Linked DNA regions of Homo sapiens: regions 2 and 3 are each linked to region 1. The links come from fine-mapping of genetic effects on gene expression. A gene starts in region 1. Each other region holds a variant in brackets. All regions are shown on one strand. Distances are from middle to middle. Region 1 holds the start of PELO (pelota mRNA surveillance and ribosome rescue factor). Region 2 overlaps ITGA1 (integrin subunit alpha 1). Region 3 overlaps ITGA1 (integrin subunit alpha 1).

Region 1 (5,955 bases):
GAAAACTGAGGCTTAGATAAACTTGATGACGTTTCCCAAATCACACAGCTACTATATTGTGGTTCCAGGACTTGAGTCCAAGCAGCGTAACTCCAGAACCTTACTTACTCTAGTTACTTTACTCAGTATATTAGATTAACTCCAAGAAGAATACTTTGGTTTTAAGTATATGTTTTTCTTTTTGAGATTATTGGTTAATAATCTCAATTACTCTTGCCTCATTTCATAGACATCCACTTTCCAAATTCTTAATCAGTTCAGTCTCTAATCTTTCAGTGCAGCCATCCCCAACCGTTTTGGCAGAGAGACCGGTTTCATAGAAGGCATTTTTTCCACAGACCAGGGGTAGGGGAAACGGTTTCAAGATGATTCAAACACATTACATTCATTGTGCACTTTATTCCCATTATAATTATGTTATAATATATAATGAAGTAATTATAAAACTCACCATAATGTAGAATCAGTGGGAGCCCTCAGCCTGTTTTCCTGCAACTAGACGTTTTCATCTGGGGATGATGGGAGACAGTGACAGATCATCAGGCATTAGATTCTCATAAGAAGCGTGTGCAGTTCACAATAAGGTTCATGCTCCTACTCATGCTTCCAAACCCTTAAAGAGATCTGATCAAATCAAGTCTCATTTAAAATAGAAAAGTATGTAGTATAAAGTCTAGAGCTGAAACATTTGTCATCAAGTGTCTCATATCAATAACTAGTTTGTGACTCTGGGCAAGTTTCTGTCTTCTCTAAATCTTTACTCAATGACATGTCTTTCTGTCAGTCAGAATAAAATTGGTTAAGAAAATAACCGGCTTGACATTTATTTGTATTTGGGTTTATTGAAGTTCAGAAAATAAGCACTGATTCTAAAATTAATTCTCTAACCATAGTTATCTCTCAGTCTCTACATTTGTATTGACTAGACATATAAAAGATTCATAAATATGTAAACATGTAAACATAAAATTTGTAACTTGTGAAAATTAATTGTAACAATATCACTGTTAGTGATGGTTATCACCAATAATTTGTAAGTCCTAGAGGAAATAAAAATATTAAAATTGAAATTATATATTAGCCCCCAGAAGAAAGGTAAATTTCCCAGTAATTGTAAACTTGAACATATTATATGTTAACCCTACTTTATTTCAATATTTTACAATTTCTTTTTGTTTTTTCTAATGAAATATATTGCAATTTGCTAAAATGCCATATATGTATTTGCATATGTATGTATATGCTGTACATATATATGTACACATACATACATACACATGATTGTGTATATATAGACACACTATTATATGTTTTTGAAAACTAAGCAATTTGGAGAAATATCATTGGGAAAGTACTTACTATGATTTTTAAATGTCTACGAATTAATCAATATCTATTGGTTACTGTTCAAAGCACAGAGAGTCATACTGAGAGGCATAAGACATAACTGATACTACCAACAGGGAAACGAGATATACACAGGAAATGAATTCCTTGGCAGGGTATGAGAGCATTGAACACAAACAAAGGAACTTAAGTAAAGTCCAATGGGATTGAACTGTGACCCAACATAATACAATTTTTCTAGAGACTCATTTGTGTAAATTTGAAGACAGAACTGAGAAATGACATTATAAAAACTAAAAACGGGAGAACGAGATTTTTAATGTATTTACTAAATAGTGAATCAGTTCAGATACATAATAGAAAAGGAATTTCTTGATTAATGGGTCAACATACTGAGATCTGATGGCCTTCAACCTCCTTGGGTCTGCCCACCCCATTTTTGACGCTCCTTAAACTTCTTCAACTTTTGTCTTCTCCAGCTTTTAGTTGCTGTGATCCTCTATCTGGCAATGTATCCAGTGAACCCTGTGGGCTTCTTCCTTCCTGTCCCTCGTGTTACCTGTTCTGTGCTACCTGTGTTGCGTTCTGCTCAACGAACCCTCCTTTGGGTGGCACTCTTGTCCTGCCTAGCCCTAGTTCTGCTAGAGATGCTCAATTAGTTGTTGAGTTGAAGAATTGAATTGAACTGTTTCCCTCAGATTCCTCTAAACACAAATCCACTTATTCTTTCTGTCTTTGAAATTCTCAAAACCGCTAAGACACAGCTATTTTGAAAATAGCCAGCATTGGTTGAAGCTAGGGTGAATATGGCTTTTGACTCAGAGAGGTTGTTCAACTCACCAGGAAAGGGAAGCATTGCAAGTTCCTAAGCACTTCTGGACTCTTAATGCATTTTCACTCGTGAAAGTTTCAAGCAAGAAAAAAATAAAGTAGTGCCCCGAGTTCTTTATTAGATTCAATTACCAGCGTACAAACATCCTAATTCACTTAAACAAAATAGCCCACACACATTCCATTTCCAAGGAGGCTGCTTTTCTTCCTCTCTTCCCTTCTCGCTCTCCCTCTTACTGTTTTTCCTCCGTCTTGCTTCTCCTTTTCTCCCCTTATCCTAGTTATCTCAAAGAAAAGCTTATCTGCAACCACCCTTTAACCACGAATTACCATAAACGAAGCAACCCCCCCACCCCCCCATAAGCGAAAGCAAAGCCCTCAGTGGAGCCTGTCGGGGTGGTGGGGACGCCCCCTTTCGTGCAAAACGACTTCACGGTGAATTTCAAGTGTCCGCAGGGGATGGAAGGGGGGATTCCAGATCCTCGCATTTTCACAGACGGCCTAATCCCTCTGCGCAATGGACCCGGGAAAGCTGCCTCCCGTTAAGGGCGCCCAGGCACTGTCAAAGCGCCCTCCCTGCCCGGGCCGGGAGAAGTAAGGGGTGTGAAGGCGGAGCCACTGGGCTGGCAACACCCTCCCGAAGGTCCAGCCCTTACCCGCCTTCCTACCACCTTAGGGGATTTGGCCCGGAGAACGAGATCACCCTCTCAATGAAAGGCAGATGTCCCTTTAAGGTTTGCTTCTACAGCCCGTGGACTTTAGCCTAAACACGGACCCGCGAAGCTGGCTTTATTTGTCCATGTCTCGGACAGAGCCTGGGAAGCTGCCAGTGAGATTTCAGAGACCAAGAGCGCGAAGGGGCGGGCGATGTGGCAATCCGTCTGGGATGTGAAAAGCGTGGAGCGCATTTAGAGGAATTCGACGAAAACACAGGAAATCACTCCTCTCCCGCTCCTGGGCGCCGCTGCCACTGGGGCAGAGGACTGGGAACCGCGGCAGCGGGATAAGTGGCCCAGCCAGAGAGCGCAGCTCCCGCGCCCGGTCCTGCCCTGCGAACCAGCGCGGCCCCCTGGCGCTGAGGCTGCTCCGGCCATGGCCCCTCGGCCCCGCGCCCGCCCAGGGGTCGCTGTCGCCTGCTGCTGGCTCCTCACTGGTGAGCGACTCGCTTTTCTCTGAGCATCTCCTGCTCGCGGGCTTGGGGCTTGGAGCGGGGAGGGAGGTCCTCAGAGCCATGGGCCAGATAGGAAGAGAGAGCGCCCATCCACTTTCGGGCATTCCAGGTACTCAGGCCAGGCTACGGGGCAGGCAGGAGTTTCGCGTTCTGGTTTTGATATGAATTAGTTTTCGTGTCTCTCCAAAGTCCTTCACCCTAGGAGTAGGAGTGAGGCAGCACTGAAAACCTTAGAAGGTAGAATTCACTTTTAAAATTAAAGTTGTTTTTACAATACACATTGTATATTAGGACTTTGCTGAATATTTCCTCCCCTCCACCCTTTTTTATGGCATGGGATGGGAGGGTGATGCTTATAGGGCGCCTGATACATATGCAAAATTCCTACCCTCGGGTTGTTCCAGAGTGGACATTATTGAATTTTCTTGCTGTCTACTATTTAGGCTTTTTTCCCATGCAGAACAAGAAAAGGCAGGGATGCAAGACGAAACTGCCACTTGTTCCAAAATGATGTTTCTATGTCAGCACCCAAGAGGAGGGATATTTTGAAACGTAGAAAGGAATGGTGAACATTTTCTCTGTAAATATCACAGGGCAGTCTACTTTTAAGATGCAAAATATAGTATTGTTATTTGTACATAAATGTGTATTTTTAAGGAGGGGACTTAAAAACATAGTGGAAATGCAAAGTTGTATCCAATTTAGAAAAAGCTTGAAATATAGCATTTTGTAAGATTTTCCCAATAATGAACTCATGGTCAGATCTTTTTTACCAGTTACTGATTGGGGTGGGGGAAAGTTGAAATGGTGAAAAATGGAAGAAGGTGGGGGGAAAGTGTATCGATAGAATCTCTGTGTGAAAGAAAATCACCTTATTAATGGGTTAATTAACAGCTGGCTTTAACATATCATTGATATTCAATTGTTCAGTGTTTTTACTGCTGGCATGGTTATTAGTACTAGTTAATTTAGCATTTTTACCACTAAAAACAGGGTAGAGCCAGCTAGTTTAGACCTGCCTTAGATGGCCAAGCATTGTTAAGTTTTATGAAGATGATTTAGAAGTTGATTATCAGCAAGCAGAGCTTTTTTCAGAAGGGAGGTAATGTAAAGAGAGTTAATAATTAGCTACTGGCTTTTCATCCAAACATTTCCCACTACTCAGGAAATGTCCAATAATCCAAACAGTGGTAACTGCTGAACAGCATTATAGCCGGTGAGTGGTTTAACTTACCAGCTACTGCCACTACTTTTTACACATATTTGACCTATGATTCTTCTCCAACTCAAATTTTTTTAGATTGTATTTTGTTGTTTTTGTGCAAAATCTGAATACAGTAGTTTACTATCCAAGTTGTACTTTTTCATTCTACCAAATAAGCAGTCTCTAGAGTAGAAATGATGAAATGAGGTTTGCGTATCCTCTAAAAAGACAAGAGTGAAACTTGAAGTAACAGAGAAGTTTAACAAGTTACAATTTCATATATATGTTGGTGAAATATACATTGGTGAATCCAGGAAGAGACTTAAAATATTTAGAAACCTTGTGTGCACTATATTTATGCCCATTTCGCAACACATGAGGGATCTGAAATTGGACTGCTTTCCCATCAGTCATTATATTCTGTAGGCTCTTCTTTAGCAATCTCTTTCAGATTTGGAAACTTCTCATCAATTCAGAGTCCGTTTGTAACCTGGGGACTCATCACCATACTTATCCATGCACACTACTGTAGAGCTTATCTTTCTGTCTTCAATTTGAACCCAACTTCCAGTCTACCCTCCTAATACATCATTTTTACTATATCTGTTTTTAGTCAAAAATCTTTGGTGGTTCTTTGTTGCCTTTAAGATAAAATCCAAAATTCTCAACTGACTGCCCTAATCCAACACCCTCTCTCTATCTCCTACTACTCCTATGTCAGTTTCTTATTGCTGTTGTAACAACTTGCCATAGATCACCAGCTTAAAACAACATAAATTTACTATTGTACAGTTCTGTAGGTCAGAAGTATCACTGGGCTAGAATCAAGATGTCACCAGGGCTGCATTTCTTCTGGAGGTTCTAGGGGAAAATCAGTTTCCCTGTTTTCACCAGCCTCTGGCCACCACCTGCATTCTTGGCCTGTGGCCCCTTTCTCCATCTTCAACCGAGCAGGGTAGAATCTTCAGATCTTCCCCCATGACTCTGCTTTATCATCACATCTCCTTCTCAGACTCTGACCCTACTACCTTCCTAAGGATCCTTGTAATTACAATGTGCCTACCAGAATAATCTCCTCATCTCAAGATCTTTAATTTAATTACATCTTCCAAGTCCCTTTTACCATCTAAGATAACATATTCACAGGTTCCAGGCATTAGGTCATGGATATCTTTGGGAGACCATTATTCTGCCTACCACAACCCATAAGCATAAACTGTCCATTATAGCCAATCACTTTTCTTTACTTTCTCCATAATCCTCATGTTCATTTTGCCACTGAAGATATGACCTTGTTTTATACATCGAGAAAAGAATTCCACCTTTCCATCCTACCACCCTCTGACATCTAAATAAACTCTCTACAGCCTTCCAAACTGGGTTTACATCAGAACAACAAGCC
Region 2 (5,955 bases), 35 kb after region 1:
ACATGTATACATATGTAACAAACCTGCACGTTGTGCACATGTACCCTAAAACTTAAAGTATAATAAAAAAAAAAAAGAAAAAGAAAATGGCACACTTGCTCTTGACTCCCTTGGCCGGAGGTGGAGGTAATACATTGTTAGTTCTGATCCTTGTTCATTGATGAGAACCAGCCCACATGGCTTCCACCTACTGCTAGGGACTCTGGGACATACAGACAAGCACATAATTATTTGGTGATATTTGGTGAGCCCTAACTGCCGCAGAAAAACTTTTGAAGCATTTAGTTCTCTCCCGAGACCAGAAATCAATCAGGTAAACATGAATAAGAAATTTATAGTATTATCTCAGTTTTTTTTTATTGGCTTTAACAAGAGCATATGCTGGGAGGATATTTGCTATATTCTGCTAGTTTCCCCAATTTAAGGTTGTCTGTTTTGATTAAAACCCCTTAGCCCAGTGGAAAGATGAAACTCTCATCTATTTAGTCCTTAATATCTCTATCACTAAATGGATAGGTTTCATGTACTCTTCAGTATTGATAGCCTACTTTCTAAGTGTGTGTGTGTATGTGCATGTGTTTCTGCCATTACAGTCATTGTATGAAACAATTATGTATTCTGACAACAGCTAGCACAGATTTATCTATTTAATAAATGTTGGTTGATTAATAGATAAAGGCACGTTTATATATACCAGCAAATACGAAGACTTGGATTCAGTAAAGTTTGATACCATTCAATAGCATTAAGATTAAGGATGACTGTGACGGCCTTTAGTTTGCATTTTTAGACTGCTTAATTTGGGTCAATGTTTCTCAAAGTTATCTCCAGTGGTCTAAACTGTTAAATCTGTTCCGAAGTCTAGGAACCTATGTCAGTCAAAAAAGTATGTTTTTAGACAGCTCTCCTCACCCCATTCCGTGTGAAGATGGCCCCACTGATATTCATAAAAAATAAGAATATTCCCTCCCAATGAATGTTGCTATAAGGAAATTTGCTCATACAGAATTGGTAAATGGAAAAATGATGTCACTATAATACATAAGTCACTATAATTCAGTTTTCCCTAGCACCTTAATGTTTATACTACCAATGCCACCACTTGAATGCCAAATACACTAAGAGTTGGACACAGTAAGCATATACTCATACAGTATTGTAAGGAATTCCCATTCTCCTTGTATTCTTCCTCTTTGCCTAGTTTTGCTGTGTGTGATTTCTTGGAAGGGCTTATATAATTGGCCCCAAACTTAGTTCATTTTGCCCTTGTCCCCACAACTATTCAGCCTTAACATTTTCTTACTTCATTCCACTGTAATCATTTATTTAGTATAGAATTTATTAGGAATCTAAATGCCTTTAAAATTATGCTAGTATTTTTATTTGAGTTGTTTCGACTTTATGTTTTAGCTAAAAAGGTGTATGGACTTTGAGTTGACTGCCCCAACTCTGTTTTTATCATAAGCTGTATGATTTTTATGTGTGATTTTGTAGAAAACACAAGATTGCTTTTAGGAATGAATATATCACATTATAATAGAAATATCTGTTTTCTTGCAACTTAAATTGCATATATTTTATGAATGGAAGAATGTCAACAACAAAATTGGCAATGGGACTATTTGAGAATTTGCCATGTGGAGGCCGTTTCCTGACCTTTTATCCTTTATATGCTAGAGTGCTTTAGAGTTTCCAAATGGTGTTCATATGTGGAATTTTATGTCAATCCTTGAACAATACTACAAGGATCATTATTAACATTTCTACTTGATAGACTTGGAAATCAAGGCTCAGAGGAGACAAATGTTTTGCCTACAGTAGATTGGTGACAACATTCTGGCTATAATTAGTTACTCTATTCAAATAAACATATTTGAGCTTCGATTTTACTTAGGGCACTGGGGATACAAAGATAATTAAAATGAAACTCAGTCCTCATCCAACCAGTTGCCTCTCTTCTTCCTCCCACTGATTCAGGGACACTTCCGTTTGGACTGGGCAGAGCTAGACAATCTCAAACTCATAGAGGCATCTGCATTGCTAGTTTCCTAGAAGAGCTGGAGGCTGAGTATCCGGACTGCTCTGCATAGGGGATATGGGACACTTAGGTGGCTCCTGGCCAAGTGGCCCAAGCCTGTTGCTGACTGGAAGTCTGTCACTTGGCTCTCCTCCCTCGCCAGTTCGTATTGTAGCCTCTACCCTTGACACTGTCTCACCCAGTGGAAACACAGCTGCAAGAGCTGCAGAAGGCCTATTACTTCTAATCTTTCTGCTTCGTATGATCGGTAATTACACCCCAGGGACACATAATGAAGATGGTTCATCACTGCTTTTTATGTGCTTCATAGTGTGAGATAGTGGACTGGGAACTTGAATCAGAGCAAGAAAATTGTTTTCTGCTCTAGGTTTGGTCACTTAAACTAGCCACAGTATATTAGGCAAAATATTTCAACTGCTTGGGCATCAGTGTTCTCATCATTTGAGGACACTGTCTCATTAGATGGTCGAATAGGGACTTTTCCAGCTATAGCCTTCTGAGATTCCTCAAGGACACATCGAGTTTGTATTGCATGGTCAAAAGAGGGCTCCAAGGAACCAGGTCTAACAAGCTTTAAGGTGAGTGAGTTCTCTCAATGGTGCCCCGACTTTCCTGACATCCTTCTGAATCTTAGACAAGCCTCGGAGAGAGATACTCATGGAATGACCAAAATGGTAGCACCAGATCTGTATGAGGTATTTAATCATTTTATTTTATTTTAATTTTTAGACAGAGTTTTGCTCTGTTGCCCAGGCTGGAGTGCAGTGGTACGATATTGGCTCACTGCAACCTCCGCCTCCCGGGTTCAAGCAATTCTCCTGCCTCAGCCTCCCGAGTAGCTGGGATTATAGGCTTGCGCCACCATGCCCAGCTAATTTTTGTATTTTTTAGTAGAGATGGGGTTTTGCTCTGTTGACCAGGCTGGTCTCAAACTCCTGGCCTTAAGTGATCCACCCACCTCAGTCTCCCAAAGTGCTGGGATTGCAGGTGTGAGCCATGGCACCTATCCAAATCATTTTAAATGGTGATGATTATGTCCAATAAGTCCATCTTATTCTCTTGGGCATCTCAACCTTTTCCTGCCTTAGGAAAATGGAGGTCCTCTAACTCCT[A/G]AGATCTTGTCACATGATCCTGCTGTAGGCAGAACCCACACCAGTTAAATGTTTATTTACTTGATCAATGTTTAGCCTGTGGTTGGCTTTTAAATATCCCAACGGAGACTGAGAAAGCAGTGCAGAGAGTGCTAAAATACAGACAAAGGAAAAGAAAGAATTGGAAACTAGGAGAAAACAAGGAAAAAAGAAGGGGAAAGTGCTTTCAGCATTTCTTTTCAACTTCCTCTACATGCTTAGAAAACAGAATTGACTTTTGTATGTCTGTGGTAGCTTTACAAATAAATTAAACATATTATCAACGTTTGCCAATTTATTTTACAAGTATACGGAATATCATTAGCACATTCTGGTGATAGTATGTCAGATATTTAAAGAGCTCTAGCTTGAAGAAAATGGGCCTTACTTTAAGAGTGCTATATTTGTTTTATGTTCTCATACTTAATGATCTGGGACCTAATTTTCTTCAGCCCTGATTATGCTTTGTTTCATGACCTTTAATATATATATATAGTAATCATTAAATCAAATAATTATAAGTCACTTACCAAAGGAATTAAATATGGAAAATGCATTTGAATATGTACATGATTCATCCACATTTTAATATCTATCCTTACTTCTGTTTCCTTTTGTCTCCCATTAATGATAAAATAGCTGAGAAGATTGTTCTCTCTTTTCTTTCTTTTTTTTTTTTTTTTTAGACGGAATCTTGCTCTGTTGCCCAGGCTGGAGCGGAATGGCATGATCCCAGCCTATGGTGACCTCTGCCTCCCGAGTTCAAGAGATTCTCCTGCCTCAGGGTCCCGAGTAGCTAGGATTAAAAGCATGTGCCACCACGCCCTGCTAATTTTTGTATTTTTAGTAGAGATGGGGTTTCACATGTTGCTCAGGCTGGTCTTGAACTTCTGACCTAAAGTGATCCGCCTGCCTTGGCCTCCCAAAGTGCTAGGATTACAAGCATGAGCCACTGTGCCCGGCCAGATTGTTCTCTCTTAATGGGCTGATAAGTAACCAAGTAAAACATATTGTACTTTTACCCCATGCTAGAGGCAGCAAGCCCAAGCTGCAGAATGCCCAATTACACAATCCTCTATTAGCCACCAAAGAGAAGATACTTTTAAATTTGTATTACATTATTTAAATAGAAAAAATAAAGACAGAAGATCCTTTAAAAAGCAAACTGGATAAATAGTACTTCAGAATTCTATATATTATTTGTTACAACTGCATGTAAACCTATAATTACCTCAAAATGAAAAGTTTAGTTTTTAAACAAAGCCTATTATTGTATGATTAAGGTGGATAATTGAGCTGCTTCTTATTTTTATTATAGTAAAATATACATAAAATAAAATGTATTATTTTAACTGCTTTAAAATTGTAATTCAGTGGCATTAAGTACATTTACAAGGTTGTGCAATATTGTGAACCACTGTCTGTTTCAGAACTTTTGTTACTACATCCAGTGGAAATTCTGTATCTGTTACTCTTATTCCTCCCTTCCCTCTGCTCCTGGGAACTACAGATCTGTTTTCTGTTCCTATTAACATGCCGCTTTAAATAATATTTCATATAAATGAAATCAGACAATAAAAAGGTATTTTGTGTCTGGCTTCTTTCACTTAGTGTGATGTTTTCAAGATTCATTCATGTCATAGTATGTATCAGTATAGGCCCATCTTGTTTTAATGCACTTCACTTTATTGTGCTTCATAGATACTGCGTTTTTCACAGATTGAAGGTTTGTGGCCCACTCTTCACTTGAACAAGTAACAGCAAGTGCTCATTTTGTGTCTCTATGTCACATTTTGGTAATTCTCGCAATTTCAAAATTTTTCCTTATTATTATATCTGTTATGGGGCCTTGTGATCAGTGGTGCCAGGAACTGTGCCTATATAAGATGGAAATTTTGATAAGTGTGTGTGTTCTGACAGCTCCACTGACCAGCTGTTTCCTTCTCTCTCTCCCTTTTCTTGGGCCTCTCTATTGCCTGAGGCACAAAAGTATTGAAATTAGTCTAAAATAGGCAGGGCACAGTGGCTCATGCCCGTAATCCCAGCACTTTGGAAGGCCAACACAGGCAGATCACAAGGTCAGGAGATCGAGACCATTCTGGTCAACATGGTGAAACCCCGTCTCTACTGAAAATGCAAAAATTAGCTGGGCGTGGTGGCGCCTGCCTGTAATCCCAGCTACTTGGGAGGCTGAGGCAGGAGAATCGCTTGAACCAGGGAGTCAGAGGTTGCAGTCAGCTGAGATCATGCTACTGCACTCCAGCCTGGGTAACAGAGTGAGACTCTGTCAAAGAAAAAAAAAAAAAAAAGGAAAGAAGTTAGTCTAAAATAACCTTACAGTGGCCTCTAAGTGTTCAAGTGAAAGGAAGTCACACATCTCTCACTTTAAATGAAAAGCTAGAAATGACTGCGCTTAGTGAGGAAAGCATATTGAAAGCCAAGATAGGCCAAAGCTAGGCCTCTTGGTCCAGTTAGCTGAGTCATGAATGTAAAGGAGAAGTTCTTGAAGAAAATTAAGTGCTACTCCAGTGAACACATGAATGATAAGAAAGCAAAGCAGCCTTATTGCTGATATATAGAAAGTTGAGTGGTCTGGGAAGGTCAAACTAGCCACAACAGTCACTTAAGCCAAAGCCTAATCCAAAGCAAGATCCTAACTCTCTTCAGTTCTATGAAGGCTGAGAGAGGGGTGGAAGCTGCAGAAGAAAAGTTGGAAGCTAGCAGAGGTTGGTTCATGAGGTTTAAGGAAATAAACCATCTGCATAACATAAAAGTGCAAGGTGAAGC
Region 3 (5,955 bases), 130 kb after region 1:
GTCTTATTTAATTTTTGCAAAGTAATTAAGTGATCAAATAAGGAATATTGTAGCCTTCATATACAGTGTAAGATTTCATTTATTTTCTTTATTGTGGTATGCTTATTTTATTGAACCTTAATAGTGGTTTGACCATAAGCTGAGATAATGTCATTTTATATATAAATAGATTAAAATGTATATATTTGTAAATAAATAACTAAAGTATATTTTTGTCCCTATTGAAATATAACATAATCAATATTCTAAGCAGGGTTCCAACATTTCTAAACTTAAAAAGAATGTTTTAAGTGAAAATATAATAAATACAGTGGTGGCCTGGCAATTAGATGATAGGCAGGTGTGCATGTGTGTATAAGAATTATAAACAATAAATGTAATTAGACACTGAAAGCACAGTGAACTCAGAGACCAGTTCTATAGAGTTCCTCAAGGTTATCTTCATGACTGCTAATATCATTGTTATAACAGTGTGGATATGCTGAACAATAGAATCTTTTTTGATTGATTGCCAAAGAGATTTTTCTATAATGCTAATTTAATAATCTGTACAATATGAGAATCACTTCAAATAAACATTTCCATCAATTATTTTTTAAAATTTTTGTAGATTTGCAGTACCGTGTCACCCTAGATTCACTAAGACAAATATCACGAAGTTTTTTCTCTGGAACTCAAGAGAGAAAGGTTCAAAGGAACATCACAGTTCGAAAATCAGAATGCACTAAGCACTCCTTCTACATGTTGGCAAGTAAATCATATATCGTTGCTGCCTTATTCCAAATCAAGAATACAGTAGAGATGTCTTATTTCAAGTCAATCAAATTCTTACTGTTTTATTTCAAAATGCACTTATGATGTCATAAAGGAAATCTTGTTTGTTCATTTTTATCATAAAATCGCAGGTCTAATTTTCTCATTTCCAAATATTTGTAAAACTATCTCTAGTCTTCCCTGTCTGCATTATCAGACATCCATATATTATGGAACGGCAGGAAAAGACACAGTGTTCTAGTTGACAAGAAACCTTATTCATGTCTTCATTTCTTTCACTCATTCATTTATTCCTTCAACTTGAAAACATTTAATTTCTGTGGGCCTTGTCTGTCAGTTGTGGTTGGTAAGTGATTAACTGCTCTGGGGGCAGACTGCTGGGCTGTATGCTTTCTGGGATCCATGTAACTACATATCTCGCCGTTTGATTTTAGAGCGAAGGGGAAAATTATCTGGTATTTTCTATCATCTGTAGGCTTTGTGCTACTTCAGTTTTTTTTTTTTTTAATTTTAGTGGATGAGGGAGTTTTGGAAATCAAACTATTAATGTTTAGAGATGGCTGGTAAGCCAGTGTGAATCATTTAAAATGTATTTTGTTGGGACACTGTGTATATGGGGAATGTTCCCAACAGAGGGCAGGAGTTTCCTAAACATTTTCTTAAAATGTACATGAGAGTGATAAAAACAAGAAGCAGCATGAAGGTAATGAGGAAACTGATTTTAGTAACTGACATTAAGACTTAGAGACTTGACGGTAAACTTGGAGCTTTAAAGGAACCAGGCCAATTTTCCTACTTCTGACTTATTTCTGTATTATTGATATATTCATAGTCTGTATTTTGAAAATTGTAGTTCAGGGGCAGGGGAGTGACAGAAAATGTGCACCCTTTTGTGCCACATTTGTTCTTCCTCAGTGATTTTCATGTTGATATGCTTCATGATACTTATCATGAAGCTTATTCTGTCAGGACCAAGATCAATCTATTATTTGGTAAAATAACACTGGAGTTGCCCCTCCTATTTAGTTAATCAGAACTGAACACTTAGGAATTAGAATGTGGATAAAATTTGAATGGGTATGAAACCAGATATGGCATTGTCTCCAACCTGCTAAAAATCATCTCAGTCTATGTTTGTCCACAAATTCAGTGTCTAAGTTATGTCCAGGTACTGGTGTTTAAAGGACTGAAATATTTTCAAAATTTCGAAAATTGTTTTGGATTTTGAAAGAAGCACTTTGAAATTTGTTCTGGAGTCAGCCAGTGTAGAATTTGTATCCCAAATATTCCACATTCTGAGAGACTTTGGCAACGTCGTTTGGTCTCTTAGAGGGTCAATCTTTCATCTGTAAAATAAGGACAATAATAGTTACTCATCTTAGAGGACTGTTGAAATAATTTGCAATAATGTATATAAAGCTCATAATTTTGAATACTATAAATGATTATTGTTATTGGTGGCATGTTAACAGTATTAATCATATTCACATCCTTTCCAAATAATTTTACATTATAAAATTCTTGGCCAGGCATGGTGGCTCACGCCTGTAATCCCAGCACTTTGGGAGGCTGAGGTGAGTGGATCACCTGAGGTCAGGAGTTCGAGACCAGCCTGGCCAACGTGGTGAAACCCCGTCTCTACTAAAAACACAAAAATTAGCTGGGTGTGGTGGCACATGCCTGTAATCCCAGCTAGTCGGGAGGCTGAGGCAGGAGAATCACTTGAACCTGGGAAGTGGAGGTTGCAGTGAGCCGAGATCGTGCCGCTGTACTCCAGCCTGGGTGACAGAGAGAGACTCTGTCTCAAACAAACAAACAAACAAACAAACAAACAAAAACTTATAGCTGTAGGTATATATTATATTAATGAAATGTAACTCATTTTATAGAAAGTTTGCCCTTCTGAAGTTGGGAAATGTTCCCGGAAGTGTTACATAATGATCTTTGGCTTGAGGTCTCAAGAAAAACTATATTGTGATGCAGGTAGCTCCTATGTTGACACAGCCA[A/G]GTGTGATGTTGCCATCACTCCAGCAGGGCCCTCTGAGGAACTGGAAGTGAGTCAACAGGTCATACTCTGAAACCTCCACATTCCCCTATGCCCCTTGTCAGAATGCCAATCCCTCTCCAGGGAAGCAAAAGCCTGATGAGATCATATGTCAGATTAGATGCACAAGAATGCTGCAGTAAGCCTGACCCTTGGGAACAGAAGAAGGAGACATAACAAGATCAGAACACCCGGTAAATATGATACCAGTGATATATTTTATGTTTCACCCTCTAGGACAAGCATGACTTTCAGGACTCTGTGAGAATAACGTTGGACTTTAATCTTACCGATCCAGAAAATGGGCCTGTTCTTGATGATTCTCTACCAAACTCAGTACATGAATATGTAAGTCAGATTTCTTTAAAATACAAAATACCAACTTGTGAACATTTTAATGTCACTAGTAAACTGTGTTTTTTCACTACTCTGCATTGATCACAAAGAACGAACAACTAACTGGAAGAAAGAAAAAAAAGGCAAGCAGATTTTATTCCTGGTCAGGAATGGAGAAAGAGGGAGCTCTTGCTCTAAAGACCTTCTCTTCAAGCTGTGAAAACCTGGGGAATTTTAAGGAGTTAGATGTGGGGCAGGGAGGTATATGTAAGCATGTCCAGAGAGGAACTCCAGATGTACAAGTACAGCTCATAAACATGCTTCCTTATACAACATATGTTCAAGAAATGGTGGCCATTTTCTTCTATGGCAGGGACTTTAGCATTATAATGACATGTTAATGATCTAAAGGTAACAAGGGGTTGCTGGTTCTTGTTTGCTCCGTTTTCTCAATGGCTTTATCTTCCTCTGGTAATTGGCAAAGGGTCCTGAAGCTCCCAGGCCGTCTATAGTTGTTTTTCAGCAAGCTTACCTACAGATAAATAGACTAGAAAAAAAAAAACTGTTTAAGAAAAAATAATGCACTTTCTCAGCTATCTACTGTTTAACAAAATAATGAACTTTCTCAGTTATCTACTCTTCAAGAAAATAGTAAACTTTCTCAGCCATATCTCCAGGTTTGCCCTGGTAACATTAGGAAAAAGCTTGAAACCCATGCACACATAACCCTAAATCAATTTAAAATGTTTTAAAAAAGAATTAGGCTCTTCTAGACTTTTTCCAATCCTTCTAATTTCCTATTGTTGGAGTTTAAGAAAACTAATAAATGACACTCATTTTTACCTCATTTGAATTTAGGACCAATGGAAAGAAATCTCCCCCATTATTCTAATAAGCACTGGATTGCAGTGTATGGTTTAGGTATAAAGGGTGTCCTCACGCTGAAGCATGGACTTAGACCACCAGTAACCACCTAGGTCATCAGCAGTGCTGATCCATCTCTGTCCTTCTTCATGGAGCCCACCTTGTAAAACTTGTCAAATGGAGTAGAGCCAAATGTGTGCTTCCTGTGGGTACAGCTGCTCTGAGAATAGAAATGAGAGAAAGGGACTGAGTTGTGTTCACTTAGTTCCTGTTCCCAAAGTTAGAGTCCATGTGCCACCCCTGAGAGTGGAGTGAGGGGAGAGAAGAGGGAGGGTGTCACTAGCGTGGCTCCAATGGAAGAGATATGAGGGATGGGGAATTCTTTTTCCCCATACACCTATCTTCCATTCTCCCTTCCTTCCTACCAGATATATTGATTGTCTTATACATACCAGGCATTGGAGCTTACAGTCTAACACTGGAAACAGGTATTAAGTAGTAATTAGAGCATATGCTATGGAGGAGGATTTCAGAGCTCTCTAGGAACTTCCACCTAGGCTGAGAAGTCAGGACAGCCCTCCTGAAGTTGTGCCATTTCAGTGGAGCCCTGAAGGATAGGGTGATTTCCACCCTATTTAGGGGAGTTTGGGGAGCAGAGGGGATGCTAAGTGTGAAAGTCCTGAGCATGAAGGAAACAACGACATTCGCTAGTGTGGCTGACGCTAAAGAGCAAGAAAGGAGGTGACGTGAGGTGAGGCCGGAGGTAAAGGCAGGGGCCGGGTCATTCGGGACTTGGTGCCACTGCACAAATTCTAAACTTTTGAAAGAGCAGTGCAGTGCTTTTGAAGGTTTTTATTTGGTTCAGCCACACGACAGGATGCAGCAGAGTGAAGAGTGGTTGGAGGGAAACAGGTGGATGTGGGAGCCCCGTGGGAAGCTATTACTTTAGTTCAGGGAGGAAATGAGAATGCTTGGGTGTGAGGTGGTGGTGGGACTGCAGAAGCAAGAAAGGATTGGAGAGATATTTAGAAGAGGAGTAGAATGGACAGGGCTTGGTGAGTTACATATGGTGGTGGTGGAGAGGCGGTCAATGAAGAAGAATCAAGCAAAACTCCTAGATTTGTGGCTTGACCGTTTTCCACCCTCTCAACTGAGCTTTATGATATTCCTAAGTATTTGATTAATTTTAAGAGAAAAATCTCATGATTAGAGTTGAGTAGATTTAGATCTTGCAGTACTTGACTTTGTATTTCAAAACTGTCCTTCCCTGGCAGACAAAAGCCAGTGCAAAGCACCCATGAAAATTGTGCGTTCTTAAAAGGACAAGCACAATTTACATTTGTAAGTAAATGTTTACTCTTCTCCCCTATAAATTACAGGGATAAATATAAAATCCCTTAAGATTTTTGCAGGGAAATTCTCCTTATGAGTTGCTTAACTTACTTTGGCTGTATGCCATTTTTGTTACACAAATTGATGGGTAATTTTCAACAATGCGTAGCTAAATTTTGAAAAATTCTTTCCTGTCATCATTTCAGATTCCCTTTGCCAAAGATTGTGGAAATAAGGAAAAATGTATCTCAGACCTCAGCCTGCATGTCGCCACCACTGAAAAGGACCTGCTGATTGTCCGATCCCAGAATGATAAGTTCAACGTTAGCCTCACAGTCAAAAATACAAAGGACAGTGCCTATAACACCAGGACAATAGTGCATTATTCTCCAAATCTAGTTTTTTCAGGAATTGAGGTAAACTTCCAGTTTTTCATTTATTTGTTCTCTTAACATCATTTACCTGGCCTACTTTTCATGCTACTGAGATAATTGCTTTTATTAGATTGATTTTGAAAGAATAGAAGGAATTTTTTACATTAGTCCTCACCAATGGTGAAAGTATTAAGCTTTTTAAAAAAGTTTTGTTTTATTTATTCAAATATG

Evidence for each region. PIP is the estimated chance that this variant, and not a neighbour inherited with it, causes the effect.
Region 2: its variant is fine-mapped to the expression of PELO in whole blood (TOPMed, PIP above 0.99). The same link has a PIP of 0.9 or more in unexposed skin.
Region 3: its variant is fine-mapped to the expression of PELO in whole blood (GTEx, PIP above 0.99).

The regions. Positions count from the first base shown.
Region 1 is chr5:52,785,084-52,791,038 of GRCh38, forward strand. PELO (pelota mRNA surveillance and ribosome rescue factor) reads left to right here and starts at 2,833. Exons shown (of 3, transcript NM_015946.5): 1 at 2,833-3,331. ITGA1 (integrin subunit alpha 1) reads left to right here and starts at 2,833. Exons shown (of 29, transcript NM_181501.2): 1 at 2,833-3,331. The coding sequence starts at 3,271. PELO-AS1 (PELO antisense RNA 1) reads right to left here. Exons shown (of 5, transcript NR_186455.1): 2 at 452-509. RefSeq lists an enhancer at 2,521-2,800.
Region 2 is chr5:52,820,459-52,826,413 of GRCh38, forward strand. All of the region lies in intron 1 of ITGA1 (integrin subunit alpha 1), which reads left to right. Among named protein-coding and RNA genes, the nearest start is that of PELO-AS1, 23 kb to the left of the region's middle. The variant A/G (reference allele first, on the strand shown) is at 3,151.
Region 3 is chr5:52,919,722-52,925,676 of GRCh38, forward strand. It overlaps ITGA1 (integrin subunit alpha 1), which reads left to right. Exons shown (of 29, transcript NM_181501.2): 17 at 611-747; 18 at 3,056-3,166; 19 at 5,557-5,766. Among named protein-coding and RNA genes, the nearest start is that of ITGA2, 67 kb to the right of the region's middle. The variant A/G (reference allele first, on the strand shown) is at 2,782.